4 separate regions of the Homo sapiens genome follow, and all the other regions are linked to region 1. The links come from fine-mapping of genetic effects on gene expression. A gene starts in region 1. Each other region holds a variant in brackets. All regions are shown on one strand. Distances are between the middles of the regions. Region 1 holds the start of SCUBE2 (signal peptide, CUB domain and EGF like domain containing 2). Region 2 overlaps SCUBE2 (signal peptide, CUB domain and EGF like domain containing 2). Region 3 overlaps SCUBE2 (signal peptide, CUB domain and EGF like domain containing 2). Region 4 overlaps SCUBE2 (signal peptide, CUB domain and EGF like domain containing 2).

Region 1 (2,683 bases):
CAGTGGAGAGAAAAGAAGGCAGTAATTTATGGCTACCATTAAGGACACAAAGACAAAGGTGGAGAGAACGTTTCACTAACTGAAGATTTACAAATGTGTAAAAACCACCCTTATGACCAGAAATAGCTGAGTGTCTCTCTCAGCACCAAACAAAAGGGAGTGGGAGGGAGGCGCAGACAGAAAGAGGGACGCAACCTGCCTGCCTTCACTGAAAGGGTCAAAAGAAAAACAACTACAGAAAAGTTATTTTCTCAGATAGCTCCATCAAGCAGCTGCACTAGCCACAGCCCAAAGAGGCAGGCCCCCGTGGGCATGTTCGGGGGCTGGGGTGGCAGACAGTGGGTACTGAGGGTGCAGAGGCTGGGAGCTCTGGGCTGTGGATAGGCCCCAAGAAGACATAAGAGTTTTTGTGCATGAGCTAGGTGGGGATTTTTTGGTGACATCTATTTTTTTTCTGATCTCCAAAGGAATGGTGTGTGTGTGTGTGCGCGCGTGCGTGTGCCTGCATATATACATATGTGTATGTATATAATCGCAGGAGAAAATTGAATAAATACGGAGAAGCTCAGTGAAGAACATTACTATCCCTAAGTGTGATGTTTGGTTGCGTCCGGAAATTGTTACTATATTTGTTCCTGGAGTGATGGTGGGTGTATTGGGCTCCAGCCATCCGTGTCAAGTGTGATATGGGAAGACCCTGTGTACCTGTTCCCTTGCAAGGACTGTCTTTCATGGAAGGCTAGGTGCTAGGCCCTGCCTGTGTTTGAAGCTAGCCAGACCTGATGTTTATGAGTTCAGGTGATCGTAAATGCCACCTGTACTCCGGCAAAGTCGGGGCTGCTGTCTGTTGTCTCTGGTGGCTCACCTTTGACCTCTAGCCCCCTTCCCCTTAGGCTGCCCTGAGATATACATAAGTAGCTTGCAGGGATTCTAGGCCCAGTGTGCCCCACAGTGGGACAAGTGGACCAGTGCCCTCAGGGCTGTGGGATGGAGGATCCCAGAGGGCCTGGGGTGGGCAGTGTGGAGAAGGGTGCAGAGGGTGTGCTGGGGTGGGCAGAGAAGCCAGGGTCACCTTCTCCATTCAAACAGCTGTTTTCCCGAATTGGAAGTCACCCCCAATTCCTTCCACTCCCACCTCCCACCTCCCACGTGGAAAGCCCCAAGATGGCTTTGGGGTTTGGGGACTATACGGAACACTTTCTGGGCGCCCTGACCCCGAATATTTCAATCTAGAAGGGCTGTTTGTCCTCACATGAGGGCCTGGGTCGAGTTGTAACACACTGGAACAGGCGCGGCACCGAGGGCTCCGAGCGTTGGAGCGGAGCGGGGATGCGGGGGGCAGCGGGCTGGGTGCCAGGGCTGCGCGGGGCGCGAGGCACGGTGCTGCCGCCCCGCCAGGCTGACAGCCGCGCTCGGGCCACCGCGGCCGCGCCCCCTCCACCCGAGGCCGGGGAGGGGACGGGAGGAGGCCGGGCGGGGCGGCACTGCTCCCGCCTGCGCTTCCCGCCCCGGCCCGGGAGGGACCGTGTGAAAATGAGGCCGGGGCTCGGGGGGCGGGCGGGGCCGGGCCGGGGGTGGCAGCGGCAGCGGGCAGGGCGTCCGCGCACACCTCCCCGCGCCGCCGCCGCCACCGCCCGCACTCCGCCGCCTCTGCCCGCAACCGCTGAGCCATCCATGGGGGTCGCGGGCCGCAACCGTCCCGGGGCGGCCTGGGCGGTGCTGCTGCTGCTGCTGCTGCTGCCGCCACTGCTGCTGCTGGCGGGGGCCGTCCCGCCGGGTCGGGGCCGTGCCGCGGGGCCGCAGGAGGGTGAGTGTCCGGCCGCGGGGGCGCACCTGGCACAGCAGGCAGGGCCAGGAAGAGTGTTTAGGTCCCCGGCGGAGTCCAGAGCCGGGCGCGCGGGGCTCGGGGCTGGCGGCTGCAGCTCCGCGGGGGCCTCTGCTCCCCCCGGGACCTCACCCGCCGGCCGGGCCAAGGCGCCACGACCGCTGGGGCCCTGAGTCCTTCGGCCCGGCCTCGGACCCGGAGCTGCTGACGGTTCCCGCCCCGGTCCGGATGCCTCCAGAGCGCCTGCTAGTCAGACCGTCGCCGGCGAGCAGGCAGGAGGGTGCGGACCCTGGCCTTGGGGTCCCGCGCCTCAGCGTAGGCGGGGAAACTGAGGGCCGGGCCGGGCACATCCGCGAGGCGGTGGCAGCTTTGCCGTTTCTTTCTTTGGGGGCCGGCAAGTTCTGCTGATGGCTTCGGGGTGGGCTCCAGAGACTTTTCTGTCAGCGGAACAGCGCCTGTTCCGATCTGGGAATTACCCTGAAGCAGCAACAAGCCTAGGTTTTCAGCAGAGAACTTTGGTTTCCAGAGAGGACTCTGGACGTGCTGTGCTTACTGGACTTGCAATACTTTCAAAATGCTTTTGTTTTTAATTAATATCCTGGAGTAGTGTCAACCCAGGAAATACTTCTGCCAAGGCGGGTTTCCAGGTTGAGAGGATGGGCAGGGGTGGGAGTGCAGGGGGCCGGCCATGGGGACACCATCCCCGCTTCGCAGCATCTGAGAGCCCTGGATGACATCTGCTCCGATCCCGGGGCAGACTTCCCATAAATACTCTAAACCAGCGGGGTGCAATCTTTTGGCTTACCTGGGCCACAGTGGAAGAAGAAGAATTGGGCCACACATAAAATATACCAACAC
Region 2 (2,683 bases), 36 kb after region 1:
CCATACTGAGCAGCCAAAGTCAGCTACTGAACAAGTGCACTTTCTCGACAACTGGCTGATATTAATAACAGATTTCATAAAATGGCATCAATTCCTAGGGAAGAAACTAGGTTTTTCTCATTTTTCACTGATCGGTCTTGGTAGAACAAATACTTGCACAGAACAAATTTACTGAAGAAATGCCAGGATTTCTGGGAAAAGCTAGGGATGAAGAGGTTTTGCAAGAATTTGCCCTTTTTTATTTTGCTTTTTCATTCTTCCTGTTCCTTCCACATTTTTGCCTTTTATTAACATAGTTTCTCATGGCACACTCGGTGTTGAAAAAAGTGGTCTAGCAGTGGTCTAGTTGGCTTCGACTGAGTGCGGCACTGGTCCTGGTTTATCCATTTGGAGACACAAGTCGTAACTATGTTAAAATCCTCCAGAGTTCAGGGAGTGAAGCACTCAAATTCCAGCCTACAAGAAAGAGGTTGAGGGCCAGACCCAGGGAAAGAGATGCTGAGATGGACAAATGCAGCCTCCTGAGGCTGCTGTGCATGACCCCCGCTGCAGCCAAGGAGGCTTCCACACTGAACCAGGAGGCTAGCAGACTCATAGGACTGGCACATAGGGGAGGAGCAAAACCAAGGCATCGGCCAAAAGCATCCAATGTGGAGCTGAACTACCACATTTCAGGGCCTGCAAAGAGAAAATTAGTGAGGATATTAGTATTGATGCATTCTTTCAGTGCAGAGGGCATTAAAACCTAGGATTAACTGGCCTCTTGGGGCCAGAAGACTAATTCTGAGAAAATAAGAAAGGGATGGGAACTAGATTTACCTCCAAACCAAGTGTTTTCTCCTTTCAATTTGCCGTAGTTAATAAATTAATATTGCTGTTTTACTAATAGTTATATGACAATAAAAATGCATAGCTAGCACCTGTAGCTTACAAAACCCTTTTTAGGTATGTTATCTCATTTGGCTTCATTTAAACATTTTAAATTAGCCCTGCAAGTACGCATGGGTGAAAGAGACCAACTGAGTTTTGAGGGAAGTGCAGTTTGCAACAGAATGTGGAAATGAGGGCCG[T/C]GGCAGTCAGTATACTTCTTGTGGGCTGCTCCACACTTTCTTTAACACAAGTGAGTGAGGAAAATGGATAGATAATGTTTTTTACTCTGTGTGTATTGTTTTTGGTGTTGGTCAGCAACTGGTATTTATCATAAACCTATTCTTCACTCATCCCTCAGAGTGGGTTTCAGCTCCCCTCTCCCTTTGACCATTACAGATGTGGATGAGTGCTCTTTGGATAGGACCTGTGACCACAGCTGCATCAACCACCCTGGCACATTTGCTTGTGCTTGCAACCGAGGGTACACCCTGTATGGCTTCACCCACTGTGGAGGTGAGCAGACTGCCCCTGTCAAGTTGGGAGGGGAATGAGGCTGGGCCTGGAGGGGAGCAGGGCCTACCCCTGAGGTTTGCTTTCCTACATTGGGGTATGAAAGGTACATTGCAGTCCCTGAGCAATAGCGGTGAGTCCATCAACTTGAGAGCAGGATCTGCTAAAGGAAATCTCCCCACATGTATCCCTTTAACACACCGAGTGTGAAATGGAGCAGAGAGAAGAACTGAGCTCTTCCAGCTGTGAATTCTCTATCGACTTGATTGACTTGCGGCTGTATTCAGAGAGTGGAAGGGTATCTCAGGAGCTGATAACCTATCTATTGGAACATCTCAGCAGATAGTAAAGTCACAGTCCTCAGAGAGGCTTGGGGGGCACCCACCAATTCCACAGCCCTGCTATGCATAGGAACTGGCTGCAAAGCCTTGGTTTGAGTCCCACAACTAGGTCTTTGAGCTGGAAGCAGAACTATGAAGTTTCTCTCTCCACTCTGTGCCCATTTTGCAAAATGTTCTCATGTCTCATAACCTCATGGTCAAGCAGGCTATGCCATAAACTGGATTTGTTACCAACTAACTCCCACTCCACTCCCCCAGCCATCAGATTCACCCAGCAATCTTTGAGAATACAGGTTCAGATTCCAATTCAGAATGTCTAGGACTTCCAAGGTCATCTTCCTGAGGATCTATAGGATTTGGGAACCACTGGCTTAAATACTTCCTGACCAGTCCTGAGTCTTGTGCTTTAGAAGATTGGATATGCTGGGCGTGGTGGCTTACGGCTCTAATCCCAGAACTTTGGGAGGCCAAGGCGGGCGGATCACCTGAGGTCGGGAGTTCGAGACCAGCCTAACCAACATGGAGAAACCCTGTCTCTACTAAAAATACAAGATTAGCCGGGCGTGGTGGCGCATGCCTGTAATCCCAGCTACTTGGGAGCTGAGGCAGGAAAATTGCTTGAACCCGGGAGGTGGAGGTTGCAGTGAGCCGAGGTTGTGCCATTGCACTCCAGCCTGGGCAATAAGAGCGAAACTCCACCTGAAAAAAAAAAAAAAAAAAAAAAAAAAATATATATATATATATATATATATACACTAGTGCTTTGCTACTGACAGTTATCTCCCTTCTCCCTTTCAACACATCCTTGGCATGGCCAAAGACATACTACTCTTCCCAGTCCATCAGGAAACCTCGAGGAAATGTACCCTGAGTATGGATGTATGTCTGGGTTTAGGTGGAGCTACCTTTTGATCTGGACTCAGTCTCAGGTTGATGGGAATTAGTGTAGTCACTTCCCTTTC
Region 3 (2,683 bases), 40 kb after region 1:
TCTCTCTGGGGGCTCACTGTGTTCAAGGGGCTTCATTCACGGGGTGCTGTTCTTGGACATTGGCTTTGTTTTTTTTCTGTTAATTTCCTTGATGCTGTGAGCATGTTCCAGGGTGTTGTTGCCTGCAGTCCTGGTGCCCGGAATGTGACTCTCCCATGTAACAGATACTTACTGTGTGGCCACTGTGTGTCAGGAGGCTGTGGTCAGCCCTGGTGGGTCATCACCCTGGGCAGAGGCCCACAGAACCCCAGGACCAGCAGGCTGTACTCCAGAGCACCTCAAAGGCCCAGGGAATGTGCCTGGAGCACATGGTGTGGATAGAAATAGGCAAAGCAGGGGCAGCAGGGATTCTGTGCCGAGAAAGGGGCCCAAACCCTTTCCTGTTTGTCAAAAGATGAAGAATGAAATCCAAGGTTTTTAGGAGGCTGTGTCCTCCCGGATATAGACGCCTTTGTCATTATGTCATTGGAACACCTGAATGAGGTTCATATTACATCCTGATGTTCATATTACATATATGAGCAAAGCTAGAGACTCAAAGCAAGACAGTACAGCTTGTATGTGTTGACTGAGCAATTCAAATATGCCAGCTACCATAGTACACGAATTAACTGACTTAAGCCATACTACAACCCTCTGAGGAAATTTTACTATTATTCTCATTAACCAGATGAAGAAACTGAGGCTCAGAGAGGTGAAATAACTTACTCAAAGTGGTTTAGATAAGAAATAGGGGAGCTGGGATTTGAACCCAGGCAGTCTGGGTCCAGAGTCTCAAGCACTATCCTTCACTGCCCCTTTCAATGCACGTTTGGACTCAGCCAGGGCATACATCATGGTCTGTTTCGCCAAATCCCTCAGTGACAGTTCCTTGGTGATTTGGGCCACCCCAAGGTGGGGCAAGCAAATAGCTAATGGCTATGCAGTTATTACTACGTACCAGGCAAGGAGCTAAACATTTTCCTTTTTTTAAATGCATTATCTCATTTTATCCTTACAACAGCCTGGTAATATAGGTACTATAATTATGCCTGTTTTACAGATGAGGACACTGAAGCTTAGGGAGATTAAGTAACTTGCTCAAGTTCTCACCACAACTTAAAAGAGCTGTAGGGCATTGACTCCAGATCCTACCGGATGGTTAAGACTGACTGACCCTGGGAGGAGAACAGAATTTTGCACATCAGGCTCTCACAGTGGGACCCTCACTCCCTCTCAGACCTCAGAGCCTAGCCATGTTTAGTGAGTGCCATCTGTGTCTGGAACAACAGCTCCCTCAGCCCTGTCCTCCCACGACGGGCTTGTTTAGGAGAATCTGCCCTTCACC[G/A]TTTCGCCAAACGGGCTTATCCAGATTTGAACTGGGGGATTCTGGCCTTTTTTTCTCAGGAAGGCACAAAAATGACTTCATGTTCTATTTCACCGTGGAGGCTATTTTTGACCCTCAGTTTTAGATAGATAGATAGGTAGATAGATAGATAGATAGATAGGTAGGTAGGTAGATAGATAGATAGATAGATAGATAGATAGATAGATAGATAGATAATTTTTTGTTTTTTTTGAAATGGAGTCTCATTCACTCTGTTGCCTAGGCTAGAGTGCAGTGGTGCAATCTCAGCTCACTGCAACCTCTGCCTCCTGGGTTCAAGCAATTCTCCTGCCTCAGCCTCCCGAGTAGCTGGGATTACAGGCATGTGCCACCATGCCCGGCTAATTTTTGTATTTTTAGTAGAGATGGGGTTTCACCATGTTCGCCAGGCTGGCCTCTGTTTTATTTGAACACTGGATTTGCCTCTCACATGAGGGGGTAACTGCAATTTTAGGAGGCTCCTGGTGGCCCCAGTCCAGGGCAATGGGCACTCCATGATCCAAGCCACTCTTAGCCTCAGGGTAGGAGAGGGTCTCAGGGTGTGCTGTGTGTGGTGGAAGCCACCAATGGACAGCTTGCTGCTTCCCATCTGGTGTCTCCATTCCTTTGCCTCTGAAGGTAACATCTCTCACTTGTTTCTTTCTGAAGATGTCACCACCATCAGGACAAGTGTAACCTTTAAGCTAAATGAAGGCAAGTGTAGTTTGAAAAATGCTGAGCTGTTTCCCGAGGGTCTGCGACCAGCACTACCAGGTATGGAATCAGGTGGTTGGTGTAGGGAGCTTGCCTGCATGTGGGAAGGGGCCTGCAGCCAGCCGAGCTGGAGGTCCATGGGGGCCAGGGGCTGTCCAGCCGATCCAAGCACACTGCAGATGGAACTGAACCATCCCCAACTTCCAGGGACTCATCCCAAGAGGAAGAAGAGCATAACCTAGCATGCTTGTATAGTTCTGGGGTCACACTTCGGGGCTTCCTTTGCATGGTATAGTTGGTGAGGCTCTGGGGAAACCCACGAGTTCACAGAAGTCAATAAGGGCTTCAGATGAATTAGCAATTTGTGATCATATTGGGTTAAATTTTCTAGATCTCAGATTTTGCTTGAAATATAAGCCAAAGAAATGAAAAAAGGTTTGGCTCAGAAAGGATAACTTTGATGAACAAAGATCTAATATCCAGCCTTCCTGCTGGGTCTAGTTTTTGGAAGCGGTGACCCCATTGGCTTCAGCAAAGCAAATACCATCCAAGTAGAACTGGCCTTATTGAGAAGAGCAGAATCTAACATTCCTTTTTCTTTCCCAGCACACATTTCCAGTATTA
Region 4 (2,683 bases), 53 kb after region 1:
GCGTGGCTGCTGTGCTAGGAGCAGAAGATGCGCCCACGGACACTCCTGTGGTGCGCATGGGCTCGCGTCACGTTTACGCCCTTCAGTCGGGTGTTCTTTCCGGGAATCCATCAAAGCTGCTTTCTATTTTGTGATGGTTAGTTTAGTTAAAAACACGATCATATAGGTCAGGACATCTCATTACCCAGGCATAGCTAAGCTGTAACTATTCTCTATGTATTGAGAGGCGAGAGTCAGTCAGTGCCCTGCGCCCGAGTTGTGGGTGCCAGTGCTTCTCTTTTCTTGGCGACCCTGGCTCCTCACATGTGTCTTGTGCCTCACAGAGATGGAGACTGGCTGGGAGGCTGCTCTTACACCATATTCTAAACCAGAGGAGCTTCGTTTGTTTCTTATTTTAGGTGAAAATTCGTAGGCATGGGTGTAGAAACGTGCTCCCACCCGGTGGATCATCTTGTCAACCCCCGAGGTGTAGTATTCCGCCTCAGAGACCAACAGTAGAACCCGTGCCTTCCTAGTGTCCGCACTTGGATGGCCAACTGGCATCTCAAACTCAGTGTTTCCAAACAAAGCTTCTTATCCTCTCAAGCTTCAAATCAAATCAAACCAGCATCTCAGTAAGGGGCACCTCGCCTCACCCAGTTGCTCAAGTGGAAAGCCTGAGTCATCTTGACCTCTCCCTTTCTGTTGCGTTCCTCATCCAGTCCGTGTGCAAATCCTGTCAGCTCTGCCTTCAGGTAATTTCCTTTATCTGACCAGTTTTCTCCTCCTCCGTTATTATTACTGCTCTGTTTCAAGCCACCGTCATCTCTAGCTCAGTCTGTTGTACCAGGCTCTGAATTGTTCTCCTCAGCCTTGCCTGGCCTCCATCTGTTCTCCACACAGCAGCCAGGACATCTCTTAAAAACATAAATCAGGCTGGGTACAGTGGCTCACTTTCGGATGCCGAGACAGAGGACCACTTGAGCCCAGGAGACCCTATTTCTACAAAAAGTTAAAACATTAGCTGGGCATGGTGGTGCAAGCCTGTAGTTCCAGCTACTCAGGAGTCTAAGGTGGGAGGATCACTTGAGCCCAGGAGGTTGAGTCTGCAGTGAGCCATGATCACTCCAGCCTGGGTAACAGAG[C/T]GCAACCCTGTCTCCTAAACGAAAAAAGAAAAGAAAAGAAAAGAAAAGAAAAGAAAAACATAAATCAGATTGTGTCACTGCCCCATTTCAAACCTCCAACATACTTTGGGTAAGGTCTAATTTCCTTACCATGGCCTTCAAGCACCCATGTGATCTGGCCCTTGCTTGCTTTTTAAAGTTCCTCTCTTATTGCCCTACCCCCTTATGCTGTGTTCCTACTACACTGCCTTTCTTGCTATTAGGCAATCTCATTGCAAGGCTATTTCCTGTTTTTTTTTGTTGTTGTTTTGTGTTTGTTTGTTTGTTTGTTTTTTAGACAGGGTCTTGCTCTGTCACCCAGGCTGGAGTGTAGTGGTGTGATTTTGGCTCATTGCAACCTCCGCCTCCTGGGCTCAAGCTATTCTCCCACTGGCATGCACTACCACGCTCAGCTAACTTTTTAAGGTGATTTTGGAAAGACGAGGTCTCACTATATTTCCCAAGCTGGTCTTGAACTCTGGGCTCAAGCAGTCCTCCTGCCTCAGCCTCCCAGTGTGCTGGGATTACAGGTGTGAGCCACAGCACCCAGCCTGTTTCCCACATTTTATTCTGGTCTCTGTTCAGAAAGGCCTTTCTTGGCCACAGTTCTAAAATAGCATATATACAAACTCCATCCCTACCCCCTCTTTGTAATCTTCCCCTGTTTTCCTTTTCTTCATCATACTACTACTTGCATTCTATTACATACTTATTTGCTTGCTCATTGAGATTTATTGCTCATTTATTTACTGCCCTGAGAACCCCATTAGAACAGGGTCATGTCTCTTCTCTGCTGTGTCTCCAGCTCCTAGAACGGTACTCAGCACATAATGAGTGCTCAATAAGTACTTATTGAATGAATGAGTAAATGAATCTTCACAGGGACAACAGATGAAATCCCAAGGATAGTAGATAACATTAAGAGAAAAGAGGGCAAAGGGCAAATCTTTGGAGAAATATTTAAATTGAGGGCAAAAAAGGCACTCTAAAGGAAGTGAAATTTCAGCTCCAGTTAACTAGGCATGAAAAGAACATAGTGTGCATTTGGGAACCCAATAAGGAAGAAGGCATCAAGCTGGGCTCATTTCTCTGCCTCAACTACAGGAATGTTTTTAAAGAGCAAACCTGAGCACAGGTCAAAAACCTGGACAATGAAAAATCAATCTCTCAGCCCAAGAAGGACTGTCCCCTGTTATCATGGGGGCAGTCATTTAAAGAGAGCTCAAACCAGGATCCTGAGGCCAACTCTGCCTGGGGCATCAGCACCTCTGGACTGGGACAAAGCAGCAGCCCTGGGGCACCCTGGGAATCCACGTGGGCTGCTTATGGCTCTTCTTCAGAAGTCAAGGCGTGATTCTTAAGAAAGCAGTCAAATACTAGAGGGTGACCCCTTTTATTAGGTTCATCATCTTAGCCACAGAGAGACCATAGTGTTTGTCTATAGCCTGAAATACTCAAAGGCCACAGTGCTGAAAAGAGGCGGAGGCTTCAAGCTTCTTTGTCGCCATTAATCCTCATCCTGCTGGTCTGTCCCTTTTGCA

What was found. PIP is the estimated chance that this variant, and not a neighbour inherited with it, causes the effect. A credible set is the group of variants that fine-mapping cannot tell apart.
Region 2: its variant is the best candidate, but not a certain one, in a credible set for the expression of SCUBE2 in coronary artery (GTEx, PIP 0.80).
Region 3: its variant is the best candidate, but not a certain one, in a credible set for the expression of SCUBE2 in gastroesophageal junction (GTEx, PIP 0.89).
Region 4: its variant is the best candidate, but not a certain one, in a credible set for the expression of SCUBE2 in blood mononuclear cells (TOPMed, PIP 0.73).

Annotation. Positions count from the first base shown.
Region 1 is chr11:9,090,520-9,093,202 of GRCh38, reverse strand. It overlaps SCUBE2 (signal peptide, CUB domain and EGF like domain containing 2), which reads left to right and starts at 1,604. Exons shown (of 23, transcript NM_001367977.2): 1 at 1,604-1,807. The coding sequence starts at 1,675.
Region 2 is chr11:9,054,493-9,057,175 of GRCh38, reverse strand. SCUBE2 (signal peptide, CUB domain and EGF like domain containing 2) reads left to right here. Exons shown (of 23, transcript NM_001367977.2): 10 at 1,267-1,383. The region is part of intron 1 of NRIP3-DT (NRIP3 divergent transcript); the gene reads right to left. Among named protein-coding and RNA genes, the nearest start is that of MIR5691, 35 kb to the left of the region's middle. The variant T/C (reference allele first, on the strand shown) is at 1,071.
Region 3 is chr11:9,050,042-9,052,724 of GRCh38, reverse strand. SCUBE2 (signal peptide, CUB domain and EGF like domain containing 2) reads left to right here. Exons shown (of 23, transcript NM_001367977.2): 14 at 2,015-2,119. The region is part of intron 1 of NRIP3-DT (NRIP3 divergent transcript); the gene reads right to left. Among named protein-coding and RNA genes, the nearest start is that of MIR5691, 39 kb to the left of the region's middle. The variant G/A (reference allele first, on the strand shown) is at 1,328.
Region 4 is chr11:9,037,369-9,040,051 of GRCh38, reverse strand. All of the region lies in intron 16 of SCUBE2 (signal peptide, CUB domain and EGF like domain containing 2), which reads left to right. All of the region lies in intron 1 of NRIP3-DT (NRIP3 divergent transcript), which reads right to left. Among named protein-coding and RNA genes, the nearest start is that of NRIP3-DT, 35 kb to the right of the region's middle. RefSeq lists a silencer at 757-806. The variant C/T (reference allele first, on the strand shown) is at 1,125.